Linked DNA regions of Homo sapiens: region 2 is linked to region 1. A link means that fine-mapping ties the variant in region 1 to the expression of a gene that starts in the linked region. Tissue or cell type: whole blood. Region 1 holds a variant in brackets; the other region holds the start of a gene. All regions are shown on one strand. Distances are from middle to middle.

What was found. PIP is the estimated chance that this variant, and not a neighbour inherited with it, causes the effect.
Region 2: ARPIN starts here. The variant in region 1 is the best candidate, but not a certain one, in a credible set for the expression of ARPIN in whole blood (INTERVAL, PIP 0.68).

The regions. Positions count from the first base shown.
Region 1 is chr15:89,942,071-89,946,463 of GRCh38, forward strand. No RefSeq gene overlaps it. Among named protein-coding and RNA genes, the nearest start is that of ARPIN-AP3S2, 31 kb to the left of the region's middle. The variant T/C (reference allele first, on the strand shown) is at 2,575.
Region 2 is chr15:89,910,950-89,915,342 of GRCh38, forward strand. It overlaps ARPIN (actin related protein 2/3 complex inhibitor), which reads right to left and starts at 2,003. Exons shown (of 6, transcript NM_182616.4): 1 at 1,795-2,003. The coding sequence starts at 1,886. It overlaps ARPIN-AP3S2 (ARPIN-AP3S2 readthrough), which reads right to left and starts at 2,003. Exons shown (of 10, transcript NM_001199058.2): 1 at 1,795-2,003. The coding sequence starts at 1,886.

The sequences.
Region 1 (4,393 bases):
CAACCTCCTCCTCCTGGGCTCAAGCGATCCTCCCACTTCAGCCTCCTGAGTAGCTGGGACTACAGGTGCACACCACCCTGCTCAGCTAATTTTTGTATTTTTTGTAGAGACAGGAATTTTGCCTTGCTGCCCAGGCTGGTCTTGAACTCCTGAGCTCAAACGACCCACTGGGCTCGGCCTCCGAAAGTGCTGGGATTACAGGAAGGAGCCACAGCGCCCAGCCATATTTTGTTTTAAGCCACTAAATATTGATAATTTTTTGTTTTGTTTTGTTTTTGTTTGAGACAGAGTCTGACTCTGTCGCCTAGGCTGGAGTGCAGTGGCGCGATCTCAGCTCACTGCAACCTCCAACTCCCTAGTTCAAGTGATTCTCCTGCCTCAGCCTCCTGAGTAGCTGAGATTACAGGCACGTGCCACCACGCCCAGTTAATTTTTGTACTTTTAATAGAGATGGGGCTTCACCATGTTGGCCAGGATGGTCTCGATCTCCTGACCTTGTGATCCGCCCGCCTCAGCCTCCCAAAGTGCTGGGATGACAGGCATGAGCCACCATCCCTGGCCAAATATTGATAATTTTTAATGCAGCAATTGATAAGACAGAATCCAAGAGGGAGATGTGAGATATAAGGAGTGGTGGGTAAAGAAGCCAGTAAAACTTTTTGATGTCCAAGAAGGTGTGGATTAAAAATAAACAAAACAAAACTCTGCAATGGGAATCTCTGATTATTTCAACATGGGAGGTGGGAAGAGGAGAATAAATGAAAGAGGGAAGAAAGAGAGTAAAAGATTTCTTGTTTTATTTGAAGGTACGATATAGATTCTTATTAAAATCTAGAGGTTGATATATAAATACATTGTAAATATTTATTTATTTATTTATTTATTTATTGAGACCGAATCTTGCTCTGTCACCCAGGCTGGAGTGCAATGGTGCAATCTTGGCTCACTGCAACCTCTGCCTCCCAGGTTCAAGCGATTCTCCTGCCTTAGCCTCCCAAATTGCTGGGACTACAGGCGTAAACCACCACGCCCAGCTAATTTTTGGGTATTCAGTAGAGACGGGGTTTCACCGTGTTGGCCAGGCTGGTCTCAAATTTGTGACCTCAAGTGATCCGCCTGCCTCAGCCTCCCAAAGTGCTGAGATTACAGGCGTGAGCCACCGCACCCAGCCAATTGTAAATATTTACATAAAAATTTCAGGGTAGAGAACTTCCTGAAAAAACAATTAAATTATGGTAAAGTATTGTTTAAGAGACATATACCCATAAAGAAGTGGAGAATGGTGGAGAGGACAATAGTAAGACAATAAATAGATGGACGGCTGGTAAATGATGCAGCATACCCAGGAAGACTGAGTCCTAGAGCAGGAGTTGGAGGCAGATATACTGCAAAGAAAGGATACCATAGAAAAGGAACATTCAGGAATTTTCTGAAGATGAGTTTTTGGAAATTAAAAACATGACGGTAGAAATGAAAAGTTGGAATTGAAGTGGAGGAAATCTCCCAGAAAATAGAGCAAAGAGACAGAGACAAAGAGATGGAAAATAGAAGAGAAAATAGAAAATAAAATCAAGCCTGGCATGGTAGCTCACACCTGTAATCCCAGCACTTCAGGAGGCCAAGGCGGGCAAATCACCTGAGGTCAGGAGTTCAAGACCAGCATGGCCAACATGGTGAAACTCCGTCTCTACTAAAAATACAAAAACTAGCTGGGTGTGGTGGCACATGCCTGTAATCCCAGTTACTCAAGAGGCTGAGGCAGGAGAATCACTTGAACCTGGGAGGTAGAGGTTGCAGTGGGCTGAGATCACCACTGAGATCACACCACTGCACTCCAGCCTGGGCGGCAGAGTGAGACGCCATCTCAAAAAAAAAACAAAAAAAATTAGCCAGGCATAACGGCACACACCTGTAGTCCCAGCTACTTGGAAGGCTGAGGCAGGAGAATCATTTGAACCTGGGAGGCAGAGGCTGCAGTGGGCCGAGATCGTGTCATTGCACTCCAGCCTGGGCAACAGAGCAAGACTTTGCCAAAAAAAAAAAAAAAAAAAAAAAAAATCAATACAGGAGGTCCACTGGTCAAATAATAAGCAGTTAAGAAAGAAGAAACAGAGAAAGTGGAGGTGGGGAAGTTTATTTTCAAAGCAATTTAATTTGATAAAAATTTCCAGAATTTTTACCATGATGCGCAGCACTGCTATGAAGTCTGTGTAGTTAAGAACACATTATCATTGTTCAGCTCATGCTTTATCTCTTTCGTTTTGTTTACTTTGATTTGCTTATGTGTGCATTTATGCATGCATTTATTTATATAATGAACCCTCATTTGAATCCACAGCCCAACTAGCCAATAATATCCATGGGCTTCTTGCCTTTCCCATCTCCCAGCCTCCCCCAACTAAAGATAACCACCATCCTAAATTTGGTGTTTCTTCTTCTTCTTCTTTTTTTTTTTTTTTTTTTTTTTAAGTATTTCATTTTATGAGTCAGGGTCTCACTCTGTCACACACACTGGAATTCAGTGGTGTGATCATAGCTCACTGCAGCCTCCACCTCCTGGGCTTAAGCAATCCT[T/C]CCACCTCAGCCTCCAGAGTAGCTGGGACTACAGGTGTGCACCACCACGCACAGCTAATTTAAAAAAATTTTTTTTGGTAGGAAGGAATCTTGCTATATTGCCCAGACTGATCTTGAAATCATGGCCTTAAGTGAGACACAGCATCAGGCCCTTTTGGTTTTTAAAAACAGCTTCATCACATTTATAGGGGCCTGAACAATGAATTGTTTCCTTTCACTTGGTTTAGAATGTTATAAAAAGGGTATCACTCTGTGTGGTCACCTGAGACATGCTTTTTCCACTCATTATGATACCATCCAGATTCATACTTGCTGTTCCCTGGTTCTTTAATTCATTCACTTTCAAAGCTGTATAATATTCCATTGTGCAAATGTACCAAAATGTATTCATTCATTCTCCTACCAGTTTGGGAGAATTGGGAAGGTGCATGTGTGTGTGCGTATGTGTGTGAATGTGTACTGATAGTGAAAGAGTTCAGTCTTCATCCTCTATGGTTGAAAATCAACAGATGATAACTAAAATTGAAAATGATCAAGAAGTAGCAATATATGTGTAATATTTAGAGATAAAGGAGTAAATATGAGAAGAATCATCAAAAGGAATAAGAGGCCTATGCCGGGTGCAGTGGCTCACGCCTGTAATCCCAGCACTTTGGGAGGCCGAGGCGGGCGGATTCCCTGAGCTCAGGAGTTTGAGACCAGCCTGGGCAACATGGTGAAACCCCGTCTCTACTAAAATACAAAAGATTAGCCAGGCGTAGCAGCGCATGCCTGTAATCCCAGCCACTTGGGAGGCTGAGGCAGGAGAATTGCTGGAACCCAGAGGTGGAGGTTGCATTGAGCCGAGATGGCGCCACTGCACTCCAGCCTCGGCGACAAGAGCAAGACTCTGTCTCAAAAAAAAAAAAAGAGGCCGCGCACGGTGGCTTACGCCTATAATCTTAGCCCTTTGGGAGGCCGAGACGGATGGATCACTGAAGGTCAGGAGGTCAAGACCAGCCTGGCCAACATGGCGAAACCCCATCTCTACTAAAAATACAAAAATTAGCCGGGCGTGGTGGCGAGTGCCTGTAATCCCGACTACTCAAGAGGCTGAGGCAGGATAATTGCTTGAACCTGGGAGGCAGACGTTGCAGTGCACTGAGATCGTGCCACTGCGCTCCAACCTGGGTGACAGAGTGAGACTCCGTCTCAAAATAAAAAAAAAAAAAAAGAAAAAAAGGAATAAGAGTGATTTCCTCTGGGGAGAAGGAGATGGTAGAGGGAGGATGGAGATTTCTGTTTCTCATAACAAGACTAATTCGATGATTTGGCTGTTCCACTAAGCTCATGCATAACATTGAAAAATTAAGGATAACTAGCAGAATAACAAAAATAGCATACATAACTTGCAAACCACAACTGCAAAAAAAAAATGGGACAAAGAAAATGTGATAAATTCAGCAGATGATACGAAAAGAAACAAGAAAAATAATCCTTAAAAACAATTATTTTTGGCGGGGCGCGGCTGCACATGCCTGTAATCCCAGCACTTTGTGAGGCTGATGGGGGAGGATCACTTGAGGTCAGGACTTTGAGACCAGCCTGGCCAACATGGTGAAACCCTGCCTCTACTAAAAAACAAAAATTAGCTGGGCGTGGTGGCACGCGCCTATAGTCCCAGCTACTCAGGAGGCTGAGACAGAAGAATTGCTCAGAACCGGGAGGCGGAGGTTGCAGTGAGCCGAGATTGTGTTACTGCACTCCAGCCTGGTGACAGAGCGAGACTCCATCTCAAAAAATAAAATAATAATAAATTAGCTGGGCGTGGTGGCCCATG
Region 2 (4,393 bases), 31 kb before region 1:
GGGATCTCCAAAGGGTCCCAAAGGCTGGGGCATTGCCCAGATGCCAGGAGGAACCTTGTCAGGCTGCCCTAAGATCAAGCTATGGCCCCCTCCTACAAGGCCACTGGGAGTTACTGGAACCAGAGCCTCAGTCTTATCTACAAAATGGGGAGGAAAACAGCTGCCTCACTCTGCTCCTCTGATGTTGACACAAGATCATGTGTGTGAAGGTGTTTTGTAAGCTATTAAGTGATTACTAAATACAAAAGATTTTACTTTTTTATTGGTCCAAATGTGAGGGTAGGTATCTAAGCTGCAATAAACTATTTTCCCTTTCCACCTGTTTTTAAACACTCTCATATTCCTTTTCTCATTCATATCCAGGTGGTCATTAACCCGAGGAAATGGTTATTACTGAGAGGTGAAGAAACCAAAACTCAGAAGTCTGAGACTAGTCCAAGATCACACGGTCCTTCACTGAGGGGAAGTGGACCCCTGGCTTCTCGACTCTGGTTTTCATAAAAGCAGAACGTGGAGGCTTCCTTTTTTGCATCCACAGAAATGGAGAAGCATGGGGACAGCTGAAGATGACAGTGGAATAGGGATGGGAGTGGGAAGTGAAAACTCTACCTAGCTGGTCTCTATCCAATTCTTCCCCACCCCCCACAATTATTTTTCTAAATATTTAACTGACAAAAGACTGTATATATTCAAGGTGCACAACGTGATGATTTAAGTACACACTATGTAATGATTACCACAGATTAATGAACACACCCACCAGACCCCATGCTGTACATTAGGTCCCCAGAAATTGTTTATTCTATAACTGAAAGTTTGTACCTTTGATCATTACCCCATCCCCATCCACTATCCCCTGGCAATCACTGTTCACTGTTCTACTGTTTCTTTTCTTTTGACACAGTCTTGCTCCATCGCCCAGGATGGAGTGCAGTGGCACAATCTCGGCTCACTGCAACCTCCACCTCCCAGGTTCAAGCGATTCTCATGCCTCAGCCTCCCAAATAGCTGGGATTACAGGTATCTGCCACCACGCCCGACTAATTTTTGTATTTTTAGTACAGACAGGGTTTCACCATTAGGCTGGTCTCAAACTCCTAACCTCAAGTGATCCACCCGCCTCGGCCTCCCAAAGTGCTGGGATTACAGGCGTGAACCACAGCGCCTGGTCTGTTCTGCCGTTTCTATGGTTCAACGCTTTTATAGGTTCCATATACGAGATCACACAGTATTTGTCTTTCTGTATCTGGCTTATTTCACTTAGCACAATTCTTCAGCGCAGTTGTAAATGGAATGGTCCCTTCGGCCTCATAACCCTGTGACGACAGGGCCTGGCCCTCCAAATCCTCCTCACCCAGGCAGGCCCTGCTCTGGACCAGCCCGCCCGCTGTTCCCGCCACAGCACGGCCACTGTCCCTTCTGGGGCAGGGCATGAGTCTGTGCAAAAGCAGCGCGGCAAGTAGCTGGAGTTTATAGTTACGCGGGTGGGGTGGGGCCGGAGGTCGGCGTGAGGCGAAGCCCAGCCTTCGGAGACCTGTCTGGGGGTCGGGACCCTCTCTCGAGGGCAGGCGGACAGGCGGGGAGCTTTAAGCCGATCTGTGTCATGGGGTCGCTGGGCGGGCGCGGCGGCAGGGGCGCCGGGAGCGGCGGACTGGAGGGGCGGACTGAAGGCGGAGAGGCGGCTTTGGCAACCCCAGTTTTCCCCCACCCGCATCCCACCCCCCCACCCGATCCTGTTGCGGGGTTCGAGCCGGGGCAGGGGAGGCCGACCCGAGGCCGTGAGCCCAGGCCTACCCCTGGTGGGCGGCGGGGTCCCAGGCCCCTGGCAGCCGGACGCTCTGCACCGCCTTGTTCCGGAGCGCGCCGTCGTGGTAGATGCGGCTCATTCTCCCGACCGCCCGGGCACCCCGGCACAGAGCCGGCGCACTGGGCTGGGGGCGCGGCGCGGGAAGTGCTGCAGGACGCGCGGGGACCCGCGATTCCCAGCCGGCGGATCCGGGAATGGCGCGGCCCGGCCCTCAGGCGTTCCTCGGCGGGATTTAAAGGGACCGAGCTCCATTCCTGCACGCCAGGCCGCGCGCGGCAGGAGTTGGGCTTCCGGGAGGACCCTGGCTGGGGGCTTAGCACAGTGGGGCAGAAAGGCCATGCTTTTCTCTTGTCTCTCTCTCTTCCTCATTCCTAGAGGAAGATCCCTGCCCCAGCACACGCACAAAAGGGAAATTGAGGCCCCAAGATCCTATTATAGAAGATCCTTTGTAGGATCAGCCCGGGAAGGATGGGTTTCTGGGAAGCAGGAATGGAGAACAGCCACTGGGGAGGATTGGGTGGTCAGCTTAGAAGCTGTCCATTATGCCCCGCCCGCGGCCCTACAATGGCTGAGTCAGGTATCCCAGGGATCTGTGACGAGGGAGCTGGGGCATGGGTGTCGGACCAAAGACGCCTAAGTTTGAATCCCAGCTGTGAGCTTGGGCAAGCTCCTCAACCTCTCTGAGCCCATGCTTCTTCGTCTGTAAAATGGGGTCAGTATCAGGGGGATTGTAAAGTTTAATGAGCTCACCCTTTCTACAACATAGCATTGCCCTCCCTCCTTCTTCCTGCACAGCTCCTGAACTCCTCCCTGGCCCCACAATGCCCTTTGCCCAAGTATGTCATAGTCCGCAGGTGCATTTTCCAAGCCTGGTACAGAAGATTCTTCTGACCCTGGGATTGTTGAGGAATCTTTGTTCTTTTGTTTGGCTTCTTCGTGCCAGGCCTCGGGGCAGGTGGGCCCATTCAGGGAGGCCAGGTGTACCCCGGGAGAGGGGGCGGCATTTAAAGGGGGTGGTGGCCAGGCAGGTGCCTAGGAGTCTAGCATGAGCTGTCAATGTTGGAAGAAGAAAGCACCCTCTCCCTTCCCTGCTACACACACACACACACACACACACACACACACACACACACAGACAATGACTTTCTTGGGTCCTAGGCACTTTTGTTTTCAAAGGACCCTTTCTCCATTAAAAATTTTTTAAAAAATTATTATCTTACCACTGGGTTGGCATAAAGATGAATATATGAATTATATATATATATATATATTTTTTTTTTTTTTTTTTTGAGACAGTCTTCCTATGTTGCCCAGGCTGGAGTGCAGTGGTGAATCTTGGCTCACTGTAACCTCTGCCTCCCAGGTTCTAGTGATTCTCCTGCCTCAGCCTCCTGAGTAGCTGGGATTACAGGCACTCACCACCACACCCGACTAATTTTTGTATTTTTAGTAGAGATGGGGTTTCACCATGTTGGCCAGGCTGGTCTCAAGCTCCTGACTTCATGTCACCACCTGCCTCTGCCTCCCAAAGTGCTAGGATTACAGGCCTGAGCCACTGCTCCCAGTCTAAAGTGTTTTCTTCAACCTAAACATATATTTTTTTTTCTGCATCCAATCATCCATTACTAAACATATTTTTAGGAAGAAAGAGCACCTGTAGTCCCAGCTACTCAGGAGGCTGAAGTGGGAGGATCACTTGAGCCCAGGAGTTTGAGTCCAGCCTAGGCAACATAGCGAAACCCTGTCTATTAAAAAAAATTAATGAAATTAAATTTAAATTTTAAAAGAATAAAAACATTTTGTGGACCGCTAAAAGTATGATGGGCCTAATGGATGAGTCAGCCCCACTCCTAGCTGGCCTACCTGGCTGCCCGGTGTATGTCTGAGAAGGAAAAACATAGAAAAGCCCTACTGGAAAGCCCCTCTGGGTAGAACTGTCCTTTGGCCCTCTCTGCTCAAAACCCTCCAGCTGCTCACAGCCACCTGGCTGGCATGTCCTCCTCCTCTTTCCCTTTTCTGTGTCACGTTCCCCCTCACTGTGGCTCCAACTGCACAGCCATCCATGGTAGCCACTAGCCACATGTGGCTACTTAAATTTCGATTCTAACTGATTAAACCTAAATTAAATGTAAAACTCAATTCCTCACTTTCACTAGCCACATTTTTAAGTGCTCAATAGCAACGTGTGTTTAGCGACTACAAGACACAGAACATTTCTTTGTTGCAGAAAGTTGTATTGGACAGGGCTGCTCTAAATCCTCTCAGGAAGAGTCATCTGCTTATTAGGCTCTGCAACTTCACCCCATCGGCACAATCTGCAGGCCAGGCACCAGCAAGACAGAGGAACCCAAAAGAAGAAAAGGAAAATTTTTGGAAAGGTTTTGACATTTATTTCCTAAAAAGCATCAATCATCACGGGAAAAAACCCCAGAATTTTGTTGGACTTTCTTCCATGTATTTTGCAGTTTAATAATGTCTCTATATTAAATTATAAACCACAAGGTACCATGGAGACAGTATCAAGTTATCTTCGATTAACACCATTCAACATTTGATTCCTACACTAATTCCTCTTGCTTTGTGTTC